Linked DNA regions of Homo sapiens: region 1 is linked to region 2. The links come from fine-mapping of genetic effects on gene expression. A gene starts in region 2. The other region holds a variant in brackets. All regions are shown on one strand. Distances are from middle to middle. Region 1 overlaps SH3TC1 (SH3 domain and tetratricopeptide repeats 1). Region 2 holds the start of SH3TC1 (SH3 domain and tetratricopeptide repeats 1).

Region 1 (4,319 bases), 20 kb after region 2:
ATCCAGAGTGAGAAGGCACACGGGACCCACAGATAGAGCCAGGGGATGTGAGGACAGGTGACATGCAAACTCCTGTTCACTTGCTGAAGCGGGGGGCATTAACTTGGGTTGGAGCTTCCTGGTAGCCAAAGCAAAGAGAGAACCTCAATCTCTTGATTTGCAGTGTCTCAAGTGACAGGCTGTGGCTTGGCTTCTCTCATTACTGAGACCCAAGAGGAGCTTCTCCTAAGAATCCTTCCTATGTGCTCTGGCCAGTGGTGTCCCAACAGGGGACACTGAGAGTGTTCTGCCATCTGGGAAAGAGGGATTGTCAGTCATCTAGTCCAGCTTCCTTTTTTTTCTGGCTGAAGGAACTGAGGCTGAGAGAGGAGTGATCTGTCCAGGTTATATGGCAAAGTCACAGTGGTACTAGGATTTGAATCCAGGCCTCCAGAGCCCCAGGCTGGGATCTCCCTCACCCCTCACTGTGTGGAGCTGGGGGAGGCAGGTGCTTTGGAGGTCTGCAGGGTTCCAGGCCCACAGGGGTGGCGGTGTTTCCAGGACACGGGCCCTAGGCTGAGGGGTGCGGGGCTCCCTGGGGGCAGTGCCACACGCACGGGGCCTGAAGGCCACACACCTGGGCAGGCATGTGTGTGTGTGTGTGTGTGCACGTGTGTGTGTTGGGGGAGGCGAGGGACCTGCTCAGGTTGCTGGGGGCTGCTGGCCTGTCCAGTCTCTGCACAGGATGTATCTGCCCCAAATCTGAAATCCCGCAGCAAAGACCTCCCTCTTCCGGCTCCAGGTGGGCTCTTAGGATCCCCCAGGACCCCATCGACGATGCCATGGGTGGCCCTGTGATGCCCGGCAACCCGCTGATGGGTAAGTGTTTCCATGGGCCTCTCTTTTTTGGGGAAATGTGTGTGCTAGGGAGCAGCACCAACATTTTGGAAGTTGCCCTACATCCTCCCTGAGCCAGAGAGATAGCTATCAGGTAGTGCAAGAGTAATTGTGGTTTTTGTTATTGCTTTCAATGGCAAAAACCGCAATTACTTTTGTACCAACCGAGTCTTCTCCAGCTTGTGAGGTCATAACTGACACTCAGGAAGCTCTGGGGGCTGGTGCAGCGTCATAGGATGCTCAGTGAAGCTGCACCAGGGCCCCCGGCCACTGTCTGCAAAGAGCTCCCAAACGCCACTTCTCAGACAGTGCAACCCAACAGTCTCAGAGTCTAGCCTTCTGTCACCATGGGAAACGCCTGGAAGGCCCTGGGCCGAGGTGGGCTGGCGCTGGCTGAATTTGCCACGTGCACTAACAGAGGACCGTGACCGCGTCCTCTTTATGAAAAGCTGGCACTGCCAGCAGCCCTTCTCCTTGGATGCCGGGTCCAGCGCTTTGTGCTCTGTGGCAAGCTGCCGGTGTCTGGATGGCCTGTGCACCTGTCAGAGCTGCCGGTGTCTGGGTGGCCTGTGCACCTGTCAGAGCTGCCGGTGTCTGGGTGGCCTGCGCACCTGTCAGGGGGACTAAAGCCCCATGCAGGAGCCGGGTGGGGAGTAGGTGGGGCCGGGGGTTGTGGCTGCAGAAGGAAAGGAGGAAAGAGCCTTGGCCTTGGAGGCTGATGGCCGAGGCTTATTTATCAACATCTCTGAGCCTCCATTTTTCTCATCTTCAACAGAGGGATAAAAACATCCCCTCTGAGGACCACGTAGACATTCCCTCCCTCATTGCGGAAACCAAGCTTTACTACGAACCTCCTAGTAACCAAAAGATGAATTCCCCATGGTTCAGGGTGGCTGGCATCGGCCCTGTCTGCCCGCTCTGGCCCCCATTTGGTCTCCCTGGCACTCACCATGTGGCTTTCTTCCGCAGCTGTGGGCCTGGCCTCGGCATTGGCAGACTTCCAGGGCTCGGGGCCCGAAGAGATGACCTTCCGAGGTGGCGACCTCATCGAGATCCTTGGGGCGCAGGTGCCCAGCCTGCCCTGGTGCGTGGGCCGACACGCAGCCTCGGGCCGGGTGGGGTTTGTGCGGAGCAGCCTCATCAGCATGCAGGGCCCCGTGTCCGAGTGAGTGGCTGGAGCCCCGCCCCTTTCCTGAACCCACCCCCATCTCACCTAAGGGGACGTTGC[T/C]GCGTCCACCTGGCTCCCCAGGTAACAAGCCTGAAAGTCACTGTGGACGATGCCTAGTCTCTTCCCTTGTCCTCAGGCTGCTGCCCCCTTGGCCCCAGTGCCTGACTCCAGGGTTCCCTGGCGTCCTTTCTCCGGGCTGCTGCAGGGAGAGCGTTCCCTCGAATGCACACCTGCCCATGTGCATCATCTTTCCGTGGCTACCGTGATAAGGCACTGCACGCCGGGGGCTTAAAGCAACAGAAATGTGCTTGTTCAGAGTTGTGGAGGCCAAAAGTCTAAAACCAAGGCCAGAAGGGCCACATTTTCTCTGGAGACTCTAGGGGAGGGTCCTTCTTGCCTCTTCCAGCTCCTGGTGGCCGTGGGCGTTCCTTGACCTGTGGCCACATCACTGCACTCTGCCGCCGTCTCCACGTGGCTGTCTTCCTCTGTGTGTCTTCCGTATTCTCTTCTTAAAAGGGTGCCCATCTCCTAGCACCCATCCAACTCCAATCTGACCTCATCTTAGCTGAACTAATTACATCTGCAAAGATCCTTTCTCCAAGAAAGCTTACCTTCTGAGGTTCCGGGAGACATGAATTGAGGGACACGATTTAATCCAGTACACACGTCGCTCTCCTCCGTTAAGCCCCAGGAAGCTTCTGGGCCCGACCTTGCAGGCCCCCATGGGCTGCACAGAGTACCTTGTGCCTTCCAAAACTGCTCTGGGTGACACGTGTGTCCTTCTGCCTGGGATGCCCCCTCTCCCTGAACCCCGTGTTCTCCTGGGGCCTTCCATCAGCCCCCGTGGCTCCTCTGGGGGGGGCACTCTTCTGGCCATACGCCTCTTCCTATGTGATTTACACGCCACCCATGACCTGCCTGCTCCCAGCCAGGGAACTCCAAGAGAAGAATTCCCTGGTCACTTCTGTGTTCTCACTGCCCAGTGCGAGCAGCAGCAGGGGGTCTTTGGAGAGGAGTCAGCTGTGCCCATCCTTTGATGGAATTCTGTTTCCCTGGCCTTGTCCTTGTTAAGACCTCAGTCAAGGAGCCCAGAGAATGTGGGTGCATGGAGAGGCCACCTTCTGGGTCATGTGATCCTGGTCCTGGCCCCACCAATGAGATGCTTGTCTTCAGTGGTCCTGTTCAATGTTTAGGGCTGCGACAGACCAACACCTCTCAGACCAGGTCTCAGAGGCCGTTTGTCACCATGCCTCATCAAGCCGTTCACTTGTTCCCCTCATGGAAAGGGTCCGTCTGCTCTGGTACCTCTGGCACCTGTGCATCAGAAGCAGCTGGAAGCTGGCCAGGCCATGCACTGATGGCAGGAGCTAGACCAGCAGTTCCCAAAGCATGTTCTCACACACTGCTCCATCATAGACTTCATCATGCCCTAAGGAGTGGGGAAAAGCTTTGTCCACATCCCTTGTGGGTGATCCCAGGGATTCCCAGCACAAACAAGGCATCTTTTTCCTGTTGAAATGCCTTTTCCACACTTACTTAACCTCCAGAATCCTCCACAACCCTGTTTGCTTTTGGCTGAGCTGGTGTTCCATGGGACACTCTTTGGGGATCCTTGGTCTAGCTGATCCCTACCATCTCCAAGGGAGACCACAAATTCTCAACAGGTCACTGGGGGCCGTGTGAAGTCAACATGTACTGAACTTACAAGGGGTCAGAGAAGAGCCAGGGAATGAGCTAGTTTGTTCCCTTCCTTTAACCCAGAAGGATGACGGGGCTGGGTGCCATTAGTCCTGTTCACAGCTGGAGAAATTCTGACTTCTCTCATTCACTCAACAAATGTTTGCTGAATATCTTTCCTATTCCAGACCCGGGGTTTTCATCTTTTATTTAGTGAACAACCTGGTAGCTCTTCTTTTTTTTTTTCTTTAACTTTATTTTTGACACAATTTCAGACTTAGAAGAAAGTTGCAAAAAGAGTATAACATTCCCACACGCCCTCACCCAGATTGCACAAATGTTAACATGTTATGACATTTGCTTTATTGCTTTCTCTCTTTCACTTCTATTTTTTTCTAAACACTTTGAGAGTAAGTTGCAAACATGATGTTCCTTTACCCCTAAATAATGCAGTATGTGGTTCCTAAAACCAGGACATCTGCTTACATAACTACAGTACAACTGTCGAAATCAGGAAATGAACGCAGATACAATGCCATTATCTACAGATCTTACTCAGATTTTGCCAGGAGCCACAATGATGGCCTTTGTAGACAAT
Region 2 (4,302 bases):
CTGGCCTCAGTGGGGCGGAGGGAGGGTGTGACTTGAGGGCTCACCGTGCAGGATGCAGGGACTTGAGGTAAGCGTCAGCCCCTGGGCAGAGCCTGTGATTAGAGAAAGGTGAACAGGACGGGAGGGCGAGGATGAAGGACGCAGGTGTGGGCTGGAGGGGCTTTGACCTGAGTAGCTCACCTGGGCTGGGAGTTCTCAGCCTGGGGTGACTTCACCCCCAGGGGATCAATATCTGAGCTATGTTTGGCTGCTATGATTAGAGGAGGGGGCTACTGGCATCCAGTGGGTGGAGGCCAGGGACCAGCTAAAACCCTCCAGTGCACAGGACAGCCCCCCGCCCTGCAACAAAGAAGGATGCGGCCCCAAATGTCGGTAGTGCCTTGGTTGAAAAGCCCAGCCCTAAAGCCTTCAGAACCAGTCAGACCTGGTTCCAGTCTTATCTTCTTGTTGGTCACTGGCCTTGGGCATGTCACATTACCTCCCTGAGCCTTAGTTTTCCTGTCTGTGAGATGGATACATAACTATTTGACTTAGGGATTATTCTTGGTTTTCTCAAACCAGGTGTGTGTAAAGCTCCGACCTATCACAGCACAGGCTGGAGGGATCCCTCCCATTCCCACTTCCTAGAGCTGGGCCGGAGCCCGCAGCCCACACCCACCACGTGGGTGCTCACACTCCTGTGTTGGCAAGGGCATCAGAGCAGGCAGACAGGCGGGACCAACAGGGCAATTTGAGTTCAGTTCTGCCTCTTGTCCCAGCTGACGTGAGCCCAGGCCAGGCTTCCTCAGCAGGCAGGGGCGAGATTACGTGCTTTGGCCTTGGGTCTGCCTGGCTGGGAAGGTTTCTGCTCTCAAACCTGGCTCAGGCCTGGAGACGGTGGGAGGGTAAAGAGGTAGACCCGTTGGGACAGGCCAGGCTAGCAAGGAGAGCTTGCGGTGAGGAGGAGGGGAGCCCATCTCTTCCCCTAAATGTTCCCATTGATGGAGCCAGTGGCCCGGAGGGCACCCGGGCAGAGACGGAAGAAATTGCACGTGAGCGTTTGTGTGCATACGTGTGCCTGTCCATGTGTGCACACACTTGTGCTTGTGAGTCTCTGTGTGCCCATGCATATGTATGTGTGTCTGCATGCACATGCGTGTGTGTGTGCATGCATGTATGTGTGCAGGCATGCGTGTGTGTGTGTGTGCAGTAAATGGAAGAGGAACAGAGATCAGAGCTGAGGCTGGCAGGGCTGAGGCAGCCGGTGGCTGGTGGACTTCCCCAATCCCAGCCTGGCGGGGGACTGGGTGCCCCTAGCCTCTACTACAGAGCCTGGGGGCTGGGCAGCGGGCAGGCAGGACAGGGCCTGGACCTCGTCCAGGAAAGAGCTAATGATCAACCGGCTGCGGTGTCTGTGCAGCCGCCCTGGGCCTGCCTCTCCGTCACCGGCCCTCAGGCGCAGGGAGGAAGTAGGGCAGGAAGCAGGGGGCGGAGGCCGCTGTGCAGTCAGCCTGGCTGTGGGCGGCCCCTGCCTGCTCCGTCCAGCTGGAGACAGCCCCGTGGGGCCAGCCAGCGCTGGGCCAGGAGCGGCCACCTGGTTCCTGCGTGCTACGGCCCTGTGGGCCTGGGAGCTGCCTCTGAGGAACACGCCGCAGGTATGGGGGGCTCCGGGGCAGGCGGGGCGTGGACTGGCCGAGCAGGCTGCTGTCTGCCAGTCTTGCCATGGTTGGATCTTTACACTTTCTTGAGGACTTTTCTGACCTGTTTGGGATGGGGGTGGAGCGAAACTGCGAGCTGGGGGCCTCGGGGAGGTCGTCGGCACCCTCAGCAGACCCCACTCAGAGCTCACAGGTGCTGGCAGTGCCAATCCGCAGTGATTGAGGGCAATGATTTCAGCTTTGACCAAGCACCCTTGCTTCTGGGACCTGGCCTGACCCCGTGCTGGCCCTTGGCATGAGCGGCCCTGGGGGTCTGGGAGCAGAGCCAGCCTGTCGCTGGATTCCAAGTCCAGCGGATCTCAGGTGTGACCCCAGCGCCCGGTTAGCTTGGGCCACACTACCAGACCTACCAGGGCGAGCCCAGCGCCTCAGCCTCACCCGGCACCGCAGTGGCTATAACTGGCCACTCTGATGCCGCCACCTGGGCCTCTTTTCCAACAACCAAATGGACCAGCAACTGGACCAGGGGCTTCAGCCTGAAAATTCCAGGGAGGGTCTGGGCCCAGCCTTCAACTGCAGGTGTGCCGGGGCGTGTGCTCCTGTGTGTGTACACCACTGAGACCCCCTCTGGGCCTGTGCGTGATCCCCAGGAGCCCTGGGAGCCCTGCCCTGTCTGTGAAGCGGGAGTTTCCAACCTTTTGCCGTTGACGAGGCTCAGATGAGATGAATAGCAAAGTGACGCTGGGGGGTGTTAGCGGTGTCGGCCAGTGCCAGGGCCAGGGGCAGCCTGCATGTGGGCCGGCCACTCAGGGTGTGGCCTCCCAGCGCCAGGCAGCGGGGCTGCGGCTGAGCTTGTGGCTGGAGGCAAGGCTGGGCCCGAGTCAGGTCTGGGTTTAGGATGGGTATGTGGGGGCTGGGCTCTGACCACCTGGGTTCAACCCCACCTGTGCTGCTTGGCTGTGTGACCTTGGGCAGGCAGAGTCACCGCAGCTGATGGCTCATCCGTGAAAGGGGCACAGCTGTGCCTCCCTCCTCCAGGTGAGCCGAGGATGCTGTGAGCACCCTGGATGGCCATAATTATGTGACTGTCAACACTGTTGTTGACAGTGATGACAACTGTGTCCCGTGTGGGGCGCTGGGCCAGCGTTTTTTGCATGGAGACGTCACTCACTCTTCCAGCAACACGGGTGACGATGGCCGCACAACACAGAAGAGCAAGGCAGGGCCCAGCAGCGCACGGGTGCGCCGGTTTCCCCTGCTGCCAGAGCGCAGGACACAGCCCTCTCGGTCGTGTTCTCTCGCGGCTCTGGAGGTCGGAATTCCGAACTCAAGGCGTCCCTCAGAAGGCTACTGGGCGGCTCCTCCCTGCCTCTTCCCGCTGCCTGTGGCTCAGGGCGCTCCTTGGCTGTGATTACATCAGTCCACTCTCCGCCCTGGTGGTCACATGGCCTCCTGCCCGGCTCCTCTGTGTGTCTCCGTGTCCTCTCTTTTACTTACAAGGACACCACGCACTGGATTTAGGGCCATCCTCATCTGGAACACCCTCATCCCAAGGGAAGGTCGCTTCATCTGCGCAGACCATTTCCAAATAAGGCCCCATTCTGAGGTTTCTGGGGGCATGAATTTTGAAAGGACAGTGTCACCCCAGGATGCGAGGTGACAAGCCAACCCTCCGGAGGTGCTTGGTGGCATAGGTGAGGTCTCAATGGCCCTAGAAGTATTTGTTCCGTAAGAGCCTGGCGAAAGCTTGGCCAAAGCTTCCCAAACCCATTCAGGGCTGGCCGCGGCCCTCTCCCTTCTTCTTCCAACCCACATTCACCAAACTCTGACTGTGGACCAGGAGCACTGTCCCTTTAACCCACTCGACCCACTTGTGCGGTGTGCGTGCTCATTCTCATTTTCTGGCTCAGTAAATTGAGGCATGGAGAGGCCTCCCAGACACCGGGGTTTGGCCCCACGTCTCCGTGTTCTGGAGCCAAACTCCACCCCTTCCCCCGGGGCTGGAGGCTGGCCTGGGGCTGGAGCCTGTTCTGACCCATCCAGGGCCCCCCAAGGGTTTGTCCTGATGATAAACTGAACAAACAGGATGAAGGCAGGAAGGAGAGAGTCCTGCAGGCTGCTTGGTGGTCCCCCAGCTGGGTGAGCTGGCCCCTGGGGGCGTCAACACCTGCCCGTGGTTGGGGCCTCTGCTTGTGCAGTGGTGGCTGGGCCTGCAGGGCTGAGGGAGGGGACGCTGTGGAGAAGGAGCTCACTTCCTCATCGCCAGGCTCTGCACAGGAATCCCACGCTTAGGGTTATAACAGCAGGTGGGAAATTCCCTGAGCCTGGGGAGCCCTCCTTTTCTCAGAAGACAGTCTCTGAGTACCAGCTGTGTGCCAGGCCCGGAGAAGCCCTGGATGCCGTTTCGAACAGGCCTGTTCCTAACCCAGGGGGAGGTGGTGGGCTGGGAGGCAGGCAGGTGTCCCGGGCATCAGCCAGTGGATGGAGAGAGGCTGCTGGGACTCCTGCTCTGCCTATAGGGACATAAGACCCAGCTTCTGAGGGACAAAAAGGCAGAGATGGGAGGACAAGGACTCCAAGGTCAGGCGTTCGGAGCGAAAGACCCCTTAAACCAGGGAGCTCGCATGCCCAGGGAGTGGATTCCAGCGCTTTGTTGAGACGCCTC

The links. PIP is the estimated chance that this variant, and not a neighbour inherited with it, causes the effect. A credible set is the group of variants that fine-mapping cannot tell apart.
Region 1: its variant is the best candidate, but not a certain one, in a credible set for the expression of SH3TC1 in visceral fat (GTEx, PIP 0.87).

What each region holds. Positions count from the first base shown.
Region 1 is chr4:8,217,490-8,221,808 of GRCh38, forward strand. SH3TC1 (SH3 domain and tetratricopeptide repeats 1) reads left to right here. Exons shown (of 18, transcript NM_018986.5): 8 at 782-858; 9 at 1,846-2,041. Among named protein-coding and RNA genes, the nearest start is that of SH3TC1, 20 kb to the left of the region's middle. The variant T/C (reference allele first, on the strand shown) is at 2,105.
Region 2 is chr4:8,197,772-8,202,073 of GRCh38, forward strand. It overlaps SH3TC1 (SH3 domain and tetratricopeptide repeats 1), which reads left to right and starts at 1,519. Exons shown (of 18, transcript NM_018986.5): 1 at 1,519-1,634. RefSeq lists enhancers at 756-855, 1,206-1,325, 2,356-2,405, 2,536-2,585, 2,716-2,865 and 1 more and a silencer at 1,536-1,725.